2 linked regions of the Homo sapiens genome follow. The protein of the gene in region 1 purifies or fractionates together with the protein of each later gene. This does not show direct contact. Each region holds a gene or a part of one and is shown in the gene's direction. Other genes may lie near its edges. The genes, in order: DHDDS and FOXP4.

What was found.
Region 2: the proteins of DHDDS (region 1) and FOXP4 purify together in Homo sapiens (affinity purification with mass spectrometry; 3 studies listed by BioGRID and IntAct, with this or other methods). This does not show direct contact.

What each region holds. Positions count from the first base shown.
Region 1 is NC_000001.11:26,442,038-26,449,556, forward strand, and holds part of DHDDS (dehydrodolichyl diphosphate synthase complex subunit DHDDS), read left to right. Parts: intron 1-670; exon of another isoform or gene 671-693; coding exon 694-836; intron 837-4,278; coding exon 4,279-4,395; intron 4,396-5,521; coding exon 5,522-5,623; intron 5,624-7,519. UniProt on the Homo sapiens protein: With NUS1, forms the dehydrodolichyl diphosphate synthase (DDS) complex, an essential component of the dolichol monophosphate (Dol-P) biosynthetic machinery.
Region 2 is NC_000006.12:41,598,381-41,602,884, forward strand, and holds the end of FOXP4 (forkhead box protein P4), read left to right. Parts: intron 1-342; exon of another isoform or gene 343-408; coding exon 409-556; 3' UTR 557-4,004; downstream 4,005-4,504. UniProt on the Homo sapiens protein: Transcriptional repressor that represses lung-specific expression.

The sequences.
Region 1 (7,519 bases):
GTTTTTCCCATTCTAGAACTCCATATAATGGAATCAGACAGTTGAGGATTTTTGACATATTCTTCAACTCTGAGCCTGTTTTATCATTTGTAAAGTAGGCATGAAAACAGTAGTGTCATTTTAAAGTGGTTGTTCAAAGAATCAAATGAAATTATGTGAAAACCCTTTGCAGGCTATTAAATGCTACACAGCTGTCCAGTTGTTGCTTTTTTTCTTTTAACTCAGCCTCTCAACCTACCAGAATAATGAAGTTATGCTGTGAGTAATAACACCTTGTGTTTTTATATTGTTCGTTAGCCACCTTGTAAGGGATGGATTGTGATCCCATATTACAGGTAAGGAGACTTCAACCTAGAGAAATTAAATGATTTGATTCCAGTCACATAAGTGCATGCTGGAGTCAGGGACTAGAGCCTATGTCTTTACACTCTCAGTGCAGAGTTCTTTCTTGTAGTGCACAATGCCATCAGCATTCACTAAGATCACATTTTTCAGTTTCTTCAATGGTGGTTTTCTGCTTATTTGATGCATTAATTCTGACATAAACACTGATGTTATCCTAGCTTCACCCAGCTTTGGGGAGGAGAAAAGTCTGTCTCCTATCTCCAACTCTGAGTCAGGACCAAAAAGTATCTCTTATTTCCCCTTCCCACTCTTCCTTGTATCCTAGCTCCTTGCCTTCTCCCCTCTCAGACTCTGCGGTGGTGTTTGAACCTGGGCATCCTAGAGGTGACAGTCTACGCATTCAGCATTGAGAACTTCAAACGCTCCAAGAGTGAGGTAGACGGGCTTATGGATCTGGCCCGGCAGAAGTTCAGCCGCTTGATGGAAGAAAAGTAAGATGCTATCAGAGGGGAGAGCATGTTCTTCCACCACCCCCAGCCTTATCCTAACCCTTGAAATTCTGTTATCTGAGGCTTACTTAAGGGACTTGCAACTCTTTTTAATGTTAGTTAGATATCTTGGGTGGCAAATATCAGAAATACAAGATAGTCTTTCATTCTTTATTTCTAACTTTTTAATAAAAAAGGGGGCATTTATTTGAGGATATTGAGGGGTGTCACATGATTTAAGAACAAGTACAGCCAGCCTCAAGCAAAACTGAAACCAGGAATTAAACCCACTAGGTAGAACCTCTGTATTCATTTATTTCCACCTCTCTCTGCAGACCAGTTTTCTCTTGCTTCAAAAGAGCAGCCTGGAATCAATAAAATCCCTTAATTGGGATCCCTAAATTCTATCAGATTTCTACCCCAGAGCCAATAAACTATGGCCAAGGAAGTGGAGTTAAAGAAAACATTGAGGAAGTCATTTTCTGCTGCACAGTGAACCCTAAAAAGTTACTGTACTCCCCCTGCATAGTCTTTTGGGAGGGATAGGATGATGCATAAGAGACATTTATGGGGAAGCATCAGTACCATTCTTAGCTGTCAGTAAGTTTAGGCTTAACTTAGGGAATAAAGCCAGAGAGGGGCAAAGACAAATTTCAGTGGAGACTGCTTGCTTCAAAGTATGGAGCCCTTACCAGCCAGAATTGCCCGAAAGTCTTAGTTACAACTGTTGTGTGCCCAGCTCCTACCTGTACCAGGAAGATGAGAGAACAGTGAGCCTAGAACTCCAGTGAAGATGAGCCTAGAACAATGGGTGGTAGGGAGGGTAGCCAGGCTTCCTTCTGTCTATATTAGGATGGTGAGACTCTGGGCTACAGACATTGCTCCCCGGTCCCCAGCAGAGCCTGTGTGGCTCAGAGTTTACACCTAAGGAGCCGGGGATGGAGGCATGGGGGGCATATCCCACTAATCTTACCTTTTTAAAGTGTTTACTATATGCCAGGCTTTGAGCCTAAAATATATTCTTACTCATCCTGTAATCACATTATACCATGACAAAGATATTATTAGCCAATTTTTAGAGAGAAGGAAAGTAGTTAACCAAAGAAGTTAAGGCATATATCCTGGGTCACACAGCTATCAGACAGGCAGAGCCAAGGTGCACACCTGGATCTTTTTGACTCCAGAGCTGAGCTATCATCTACTACACTGTGCTCTGAGAGACAGACCATATTACAATTCCTGCAAGATCAAAACGCATGGCAGAAGAGATGCTAATGAGATTGCGCTGATCAGTTAGTAGTAGAGAAAATGGTCTTCGTTTATCATGAAGTCCTGGCAAAAGCAAGAAGAAACTCAGAGGTGCTTTTCCATTAATGTGCCACAGAACCCCAAGGTCTGAGGAGGTGTAGAAAGAACCTAGTGGGAATGGGGTAGGGGGTGCTGAGTTGCATTTACCTATTTTATGTGTTGGGCTTCTGTGTAGAATTTGATTTGAAGAAAGGGTTCTTTGGCTAAAAGAAGGTGGGAAAACCACTGGCCTGATTCTGTTTCATCAGTTGGGAAACTAAACCCTAGTAAAGAGAAGAGGTTGAGCAAGGTGGCTCATGCCTGTAATCTCAGCACTTTGGGAAGCCAAGGAGGGTACATTGCTTGAGTCCAGGAATTTGCTTGATTCCAGCCTAGGCAACATGGCAAAACCCCATCTCTACAAAAAAATACAAAAAAATTAACTGGGGATGGTGGCACATGCCTATAATCCCAGCTATGTGGGAGGCTGAAGTGGGGGGATCACTGTGATGAGCCTGGGGAGTCTGAGGCTGCAATGAGCTGTGATCGATCCACTATGCTCCATCCTGTGCAACAGATCGAGACCCTGTCTCAGAAAAAATAATTAAAAATAAGTAAATTAAAATTTTAAAAAACAGAAGACAAGAGCTTACACATGGTCACACATCAAACTAGTGGCAGAACTATACCACAAGCTAGCAGGAGGAGCTGAATCAAGGTCTTCTAGTATACTGCCTTCAATTAATCTCCCATTTTCCAAATGTGAAGCATTCGGTTTCTTCATAGCATTTCCAGATGAGAGAAGCTGGCTGAATTCATTCTCACTGTATGCAGAGTTTGGGAGTTATTGTATGGAAGCAATATAATGTCATAATTAAGAAGACAAGCTCTGGAGGCTGACTCCCTACGTGCAAATCCTGGTTCTCCATCAGCTGTCCAAACAAATTACCTAACGTCCCTGTGCCTCAGTTTCCTCATCTGTAAAAGGGGAATAATAAGGGTATATAACTCAGAGGTTGGTGTAAGGATGGAATGTGTTGGTACATGTAAAGCACTTAGACCAATATCTGGCATTTAGTAAACATAGAATGTTAGCTGTCACCATTATCATAATATTTCACTAGAACATAACAAAAGTACCCCATAATACAGCTCCTTCCCTTGAGGAGTTTACTCACTTCTCAAATGGGACAAACTTCACAGATACATAAAATGCAACTGCCCAAAAAGGACACATGAGGTCGTGTAATGTATAGTAAAGAGTTTGGGTTCTTGCTGGACATGGTGGCTCACACCTGTAATCCTAGCACTTTGGGAGGCTCAGGCAGGAGGATCACTTGAGGCCAGGAGTTTGAGACCACCTTGGGCAACATAGTGAGACCTCATCTTTACAAAAAATACAAAAATTAGCCAGGCATGGTGGTGCATGCCTTTAGTCCCAGCTACTTGGGAGGCTGAGGCAGGAGGATCGCTTGAGCCCAGGATTTGGAAGTTAACACTGAACCATGAGTATACCACTGCACTCCAGCCTGGGTGAGAGTAAGACCCTGTCTCCAAAAAAGGGGAAAAAAAAATGTAGTTTGGGGCTGAGCGCAGTGGCTCATGCCTGTAATCTCAGCACTTGGGAGGCCGAGACAGGCAGATCACTTGAGGTCAAGGGTTCGAGACCAGCCTGGCCAACATGGTGAAACCTCATCTCTACTAAAAATATAAAAATTAGCCAGGCCTGGTGGTGGGCACCTGTAATCCCAGCTACTTGGGAGGCTGCGGTGGGAGGATCGCTTAAACCCGGGATGCGGAGGTTGCAGTGAGCTGAGATTGCGCCACTGCACTCCAGCCTGGGTGACAGAGCAAGCCTCCATCTCAAGAAAAAGAATTTGGGTTCTCAAATCAGACAAACTGGGTTTCAATCCTGACAAAGCACTTGATGGCTATATGACCCTGGGCAGTCCCTATCTGACTGTCCTGTCTGAGCCTTGGCACTGAAGTAAGTTTCTTTCAGAGTTGTTGAAGGGATGCAATGAAATAATGCATGTAGAACAGGGTCTGACACACAGGAAAGCACTCAAAAAACTGGTGGTCAGTTATTACCTGAGCACCTTGCTCTCTCCAGCTCAGCAGGGGCCCTATCCCAATGCTGCCTCTTTTCCCTGATCAGGGAGAAACTGCAGAAGCATGGGGTGTGTATCCGGGTCCTGGGCGATCTGCACTTGTTGCCCTTGGATCTCCAGGAGCTGATTGCACAAGCTGTACAGGCCACGAAGAACTACAACAAGTAAGTTCTCAGATTTCCCTATAGGGAGCTGTTTCAATCTTTGATTCCCTGCTGGCTTTAGGGAGACGTCCTGGGCTTTCCTTGGTCTGGATTGGTGCAAGGGGCAATGAGAGAGTAGGTTGAGCAGCTTAGAGACTTTCTCCGTCTGCAGGGCACACCAGACATGATTCTGCAATAACATGTTATATGTGTGTATACTGACACATACACATAGTTTCTCTTTCCTCCTTTCTCTGCCCAGCCCCCACCAAATAAGTGTGTGTGTGTGTGTGTGTGGGTGTGTTTTTACTTGACAGGGAATGGGATCGGAATACAGCAGTTCTTATCCCTGACTTTGAAGACAGATCCTTCAAGAAATTCTTGTTCTGTTCCACTCCTTTAACCTATGGATAGGATGACCTTGGGAGGTCATACAGATGTACAGGGGAATAGAGTTCAATAATCCAAACTCTGTGATGTGTAGCTTTGAAATATAACGTGTATTTTGGCAGTGGACTTGTTTTACATCAAATCTCCTTCCTATTTTCCTTTGTTTGTGCCAATATCACAGTAGAGTCTTCCTCTGAAAGCCGGTGTACAGTAGAAGGGGAGAGGGTTAGGACGGCAATAGGAGCTATTTGGTGGCTGGGCACAGTGGCTCACGCCTGTCATCCTAGGCAGGTGGATCACCTGAAGTCAGGAGTTCAAGACTAGCCTGGCCAACATGGTGAAACCCCATCTCTACTAAAAATACAAAAATTAGCCAGGTGTGGTGGTGTGCACCTGTAATCCCAGCTACTCGGGAGGCTGAGGCAGAAGAATCGCTTGAACCCAGGAGGCAGAGGTTGCAGTGAGTCGAGATCACGCCATTGCACTTCAGCCTGGGCGACAAGAGCAAAACTCTGTCTCAAAAAAAAAAGGAGCCATTTAGTATTTGTCTTATTATAAAACTAGTTACATGTTTATTCCAAGAAAACTTGGAAACCACAAAAAACTCATAATTTCACCTTTCAGAGGTATCCACAATTAACATTTGATGTGTATTTGTTTTTCTAGGGAAAGGCTGGAAGGGCTTCTCTGTAATCAGTGACTTCAATCATCAGTCCCTGTCCCCCTTTGGTAAATTATTCTCTTCTTCCCTCCTCAGGTGTTTCCTGAATGTCTGTTTTGCATACACATCCCGTCATGAGATCAGCAATGCTGTGAGAGAGATGGCCTGGGGGGTGGAGCAAGGCCTGTTGGATCCCAGGTATCCCGAGTTGTTTTGCATGGTAATTGTTAAGGAAAACAGGCCTGGGCCAGCATGGCAGCTCACGCCTGTAATCCTAGCACATTAGGAGGCCGAGGTGGGCAGTCCACTTGAGGCAGGCCAGGAGTTCAAGACCAGCCTGGCCAACATGGCAAAACTCCCTCTTTTCAACAACAACAACAAAAAAGCAGGCCTGTACCAAACCATAAAGCCCCTCTGTGCCATGTACTTGGCCAGAGGTCTAATTAGGGGAGCATGTGGAAAGATTTAAGGGGATCTCCCAAATTTAGAGATTAGGATTGGCTTATTACAACCTGCTTCAGAACTAGAGTTCACCACACACCAAGAAACCCCAGAGAAAGAGCAAAGCAGATGACAAAGCCATGTTATTATTCCTTTACAAATTATACCCTCCTGGCCCTTTGGTAGTGTTTTTCCAAGAATGACTTTTCATGAATGCAGTTTGTTGGGGCTAGAGTTCTTTAGGTCTCTCATGTTCTAGTTCCACACAAGATTCAGGTGTTTTTCTTTTCTTTTTTTTTTTTTTTTTTGGTGAGGCAAAGTCTCACTCTGTTGCCCAGGCTGGAGTTGCAACCTCCACCTCCCAGGTTCAAGCAATTCTTCCGCCTCAGCCTCCCAAGCAGCTGGGACTACAGGTGCATGCCACCATGCCCAGCTAATTTTTGTATTTTCAGTCGAGACAGGTTTCACCATATTGGCCAGGCTAGTCTCGAACTCCTGACGTCGTGATCTGCCTGCCTCAGCCTCCCAAAGTGCTGGGATTACAGGCGTGAGTCACCATGCCCAGCCGATTCAGGGATTTTTCAAAAAGAAAATTATTAATTATTGTCAACATAGTGGAATCCTAATTATTAAAGGTGGAGAGACTTTTGAAGCCATTTAAATATTTGGTCCCTCTCATGTTATTATTTATGTAACTTTTAATATATTTGTAAACTAACAGCAATAGTAAAATAATAGTAGCAAAAAATAACCCAGGAGATGTGTTGTGTTCTGTATTTCATTAAGTCATTAACCTTATGTGTGAGAGATTCAAGGCTGTTGTCCATTGTGTAGATGAGAAAACTGAGTTCAGCATTGAAGTGACTTGCCCAGGGTCACTCTACTAGTAAGTGCCAGAGCTGGGACTCATATCTAAAGCTGTTTGATTTTAGGGTTCTTATCCTTTACCTCTATTATGTGGGATCTTGGGAAGCAGGAATTTTTCTGGTTCCCTTCCCGATTCGATTGACCTAGGAAACTAGATTAAAAATCAAAAAGTTACTTGGTGAGAATAGAATTAGATAAAAAGGAGAGGAGACAGTTTTTGAGGCTATTTTATGAATGCCTCTCCTTCCTAACAGCTGGGTGACATTTCTCTGTCACATAGTTCATTCATTCAACAAATATTTTATTTTTATTTATTTATTTTTATTTTTTATTTTATTTATTTTTTTGAGATGGAGTCTCGCTCTGTCTCCAGGCTGGAGTGCAATGGCGAGATCTTGGCTCACTGCAACCTCCGCTTCCCAGGTTCCAGCAATTCTTCCACCTCAGCTTCCCAAGTAGCTGGGATTACAGGCGCCCACCACCGTGCCCAGCTAATTTTTTGTATTTTTTAGTAGAGACGGGGTTTCACCATGTTGGCGAGGCTGGTCTTGAACTCCCAACCTCAAGTGATCTGTCTGCCTCAGCCTCCCAAAGTGCTGAGATTCCAGGCATGAGCCATCACTCCTGGCCCATTTTTATTTTTATTTTGAGACAGGGACTCACTCTATCGCCCAGGCTGGCGTGCAGTGGTGTGATCTCGGCCCACTGTAGTCTGTGCCTCCCGGGCCCAAGCAGTCCTCCCACTTCAGCCTTCCAAGTAGCTGGGACTACAGGTGTGTGCCACCA
Region 2 (4,504 bases), on another chromosome or scaffold:
TAATTATTTTGTATTTAGTAGAGAATGGGGTTTCACCGTGCTGGCCAGGCTGGTCTCGACCTCCTGATTTCAGGTGATCCACTGGCCTCGCCCTCCCAAAATGCTGGGATTACATGTGTGAGCCACCTCGCCTGGCCTCTCTTCTATCTTTCTTCTCCTTCCTCCGTTCGCTCATCTCCCCTCTGCTCCCCTCTTCTCTCCTCCCCAACCCAGAGCAGTCTCTGCCCCAGGACCAGCTTTTCTTTGAAGAGAGCCCTAGGGGAGATCAGCCCTCAGGTCTGATGGGATCCTGGGGAGGGGGCTGTGGGCACCCCACTGTGCCCCAGAGTTCTGGGTGAGTTTGGGGGGCAGGGGGCAGAGGGCATCAGAGGACAGCCGCCTGGTGCCCATGCCATACTTTTGCCTCAGCCACCAGGTGCAGGTGAAGGAGGAGCCAGCAGAGGCAGAGGAAGACAGGCAGCCCGGGCCTCCCCTGGGCGCCCCTAACCCCAGCGCCTCGGGGCCTCCGGAAGACAGGGACCTGGAGGAGGAGCTGCCGGGAGAAGAACTGTCCTAAGGGCCTGTAGTGACCGGCAGGGCTGGGGTGAGACCCCTCCCTTCCAGAATCCAGGCCCCATCTCCCCCAACTCCACAGCCCCTCCCGAGCCTCAAGGCAAGTCCAGGACTCAGACCGGGGAGGCCCGGGCCAGCAGCTCCCAGTGTGACCTGACAAAAACACGTAGGGGCAGGGACGGTCCCCACCCCCAGGGACACAACCCCTGGTCTTGGACCAGTAGAGGACACGGAGGGTTCAGACCCCTCCTCAGACCCTCCCCACATCTGAAACTGCCTCCCCCCAACCACCAGCAGCAGCAGGGCCCTCCTCCCCCACCAGCTCTCCCCACAGGGCCCCTCAGCATCATGGAGACCCGCAGGCGGGGCTTAGCCACCCCTCAAACCCAGGGCCCCCTGGCACCTGGCTCTGGCCGTGTTTTCTGGCCAGAGGCCCCCACTTTCCTAACTCGTGCTCCCTTCCGCCTTCTTTTCCGTACTGTGAAGAAAGAACTCTCCACCCCAGCTCCCACCCTGCCCTGGCCTGGGTGGAGGAACTGTGCCTCCATCCCCAGAAGAAACAGCCCCCTCTGCTGCTGGGGTGGGACTGTCTGTGTGCCCTGTGGGGGTCCGTGTGAGCAGGCCCACCTGGCTCCAGACCCGCCCCCAACCTGAGACAGAACCAGGCTGAGCCAGGCCTCCACCCCCACCCCCGTTTGCTGGGGGCTCCTCCAGCCGCCCCCATGGGAAGAGGCCTGGTACCGCCTCACCCACAGAGGTCTGTGCCAGGTGCGCTTCTGCAGGTGGAGCCAAGCTCTCCCTGAGGCCAGAGGCGGGGCCTGGGCCGGGAGCCCAGGGGAAGGCCAGGCTGGACCCCGGCTCCACACCCACATCCAGCCTGCAGGCCTCTCTGCAGTCCTCTCACCCTCCCTCAGCTCCCCTTCCTCTGCAGTCACCCTCAGCTCCCCTTCCTTGCCCGCCTCTCCCCCCGCCGCCCCACCAGTTAAACGGATGACCAAAGACCTTTCTTATGCCGGAAGCAAAAACCAAAACTTTTTGTTGGCTTTTTCCTTTGTCGCCTCCCCAGCACCTGCCCTCCCAGTCTCCCACCCCGGCCCCAGGCTGGAAGCCCTCCCTCCACTTAAGTTATTGTTTTAAACCAAAGTTTACAGTGTCTGTTGGTGGCCAAGACCTTCTCTCTCCACCCCTCCTCCATCCACCCTGAGGACCCTGGGGCTCAGTGGAGGCAGGGCCCTGCCCCCCTCCCTTCCGCTCCTGCCCAGCCTGGGGGAAGGAGAAAGGAGGGGAGAAAGCGGGCTCTCACCCCCTCAGGAGTGGGCACGGGAGCCCTTCTCCCTGACCCTGGGCTGCTTCCTGGGGGCTCTCCAGACCCCTCTCTAGGACCAAGTCACCCGTCGTGCTGGGAGTGTGGATTCTAGCAAAAGAGCTGGAAAAAAGTCAGACTCTCCACAGACCCCCTATGGGGGACCCCCAACTCAAGGCCAAGGACTGGGCGTATCGGATGCTCATAACACCCCTGGCCTGGCCCCTTTACTGAGAAGACTCCTTGGATATTTCCCAAGAACCCCCCACATACACCCCTCACAAGCCACCCCTCCTGAGAGGCAGGGGGCCCTCCGCCCCCTCCCCATGTATTCCCCACCTGTGTTCCGTTTGACCAGCACAGAAATATTAAACGTCCTCTATTCACCGGGCCCTGTGTGTGTCACCGAGGTGCGGGAGGGGAGGAGCATTAAAGCTGAAAGATCGCTCTGCTCGGGGAGCCTGGGCAGAGCAGCAGCAACGTGAGGGTCGCTGTGGTGGTGGTTTCTGTGAGTGGATGGAATGAGCAGCCCTGCAGGGGCGCTGGGCATGTGCCCTCACTGTGGACAGGGCCCACCCACCTCCGGTTCCCCTGTGCCTCCTGTCCCTTCCACGCTTAAACAGGGTTCTCTGTCATTTTCCTGTTTTCTTCCAGAGTCCCAATCCTTTGCCCTAGTTCTTTCACTAGTTTGAAATCCAAGTTCTTGCCAGAGTGTTGGAGCAAGGCAGCTGATTTGCTGCAGGGATGGAGAGGACCACCGCCGCAGGGTTCTTTTACCTGTGCCACCAGCTCTGGAGACATCCACACCCATTCCCAGGTGTCCTTCCAGGCCCATTGTCCACGTCTTCAAGGGGGCTGCCTGGATAGGCGTGTGTGTGTGTAGTGCCCAGGTGTGGTGGTGGCATCCTGAAGCAGTAGGACCATTAGTGTGCGTGCACACCCACGTGGCACACTGTGTGGTGACCATGGTCATCATAGTGGGCTCACGGCGGAAACGGGATCATTCAACCTATACAAAGGGGACCCTGGATAGGCTGCAAGGAAAGAGGCCAAGGGCCAAGCTGCTAAGCCAAAGATGGCCCCTGACACCTCCCCCAGCCCCAGCACACCAGCCTGCACCTCTTATCCCGTGTTAAGTCCTGGTTCCCCACCTGCTGCCCCTCCTCAACACAGAGCCCCTCCCGCCGCCTCAGACCCCTGTGCACATCCCCAGGGCCTCAGCCGTCTCATTGGTCTTTATTTTTTATTTTTTTTAAGATGGAGTTTCGCTCTTATTGCCCAGACTGGAGTGCAGTGATGCTATCTCGGCTCACTGCAACCTTTGCCTCCCAGGTTCAAGTGATTCTCCTGCCTCAGCCTCCCAAGTAGCTGGGATTACAGGCGTGCACCACCACGCCGGGCTAAATTTTTTTGTATTTTTAGTAGAGACGGGGTTTCTCTATGTTGGTCAGGCTGATCTCGAACTCCCGACCTCAGGTGATCCGCCAGCCTCAGCCTCCCAAAGTGCTGGGATTACAGGCGTGAGCCACTGCACCCGGCTCTCACTGGTCTTACGCCACCTTCTGGACACTCCCTCCTTGAGGGCAGAAAGGAGTCCCAGGCCTGTCCCTAGGGACAAGGCCCAGGGAAGAGTGTATTTGGGGAGCAGGGGAGGGGAGGGTGTTGAGAAAGCTGAACTGGAGTCAATCACCCTTCCCACAAATCACCAAACTGCTGGAACTCTCCAGCCAAATGCTGGGAGAAGGACCTGGAGGGTGAGTCTTTGCTGACCTCTCTCTACTCTCAGGCATGTCTTTTGTCCTTTTCGTCCATCTATTTCTGTCTGTCGCTCACTCGCCCCGCTTTCTCTGTCTCACCTTCATCCACTCTGCAGGCCTGCTCCACCACAGCCCTAATCCTCTGGACGCTTGTGTAGGGCCTGGGGTGAATTCCCTGTCCCCCATGGTACCTCGAGAGGGGCTGGGGAGCTCAGCTTGGTCTCAGAGTCTCCCCACCAGATACTGTTTAAAAAAGTAGCACTGATGTGTTTTGTAATCTGCCCCTCCCAGCCCTCCGTGGAGGCTGCCAGGGCCTTGTACGGTAAACCTAGCTGCATGTAATCTGTGGACAATGGCATTCTCTACAATGCAATAAAAACAATTACCCATGATTTTGCTGCGGCCGCTTCCCCTTTCCCCTTCTTCCCCTCCCAGCTGGGACCTACCAGAATGCCCCAGAGAATCCTTAGGTGTTGGCTGCCAGTCTCCCAGCCCCCTTACTCTGCCCCCTTGAAGAAGTAGTCAGTTCTGTGGACCAGCCCCGGGGGCATTCTTCCTATGCCAGACTCTGGAGGGACAAGACTGCACCTAGCTTTATTCTCAGGACCGTCCTTCCCGCGGTCTAACTTCAGTTTCTCCTGCTTCAACTAGAGTCCTCTTTTTATTCCTCTCACAGGGATATAGTGAATGGTCAGTGCATTTGCAGGTGGGGTGATGATCTATTTTGGACACTGGTACAGGAGAGGGTCTTGCAATATAAGAAACAAGAGCTGTTATGAACCACCACCTTCTGGGTGCATTGGGCTTATAGACTCAGTAATTTATTTTCTTCCTGATCTGACATCCTACATGGGGCAGCCCTCCCACAATTATTACCTTATTCGAAGTATGA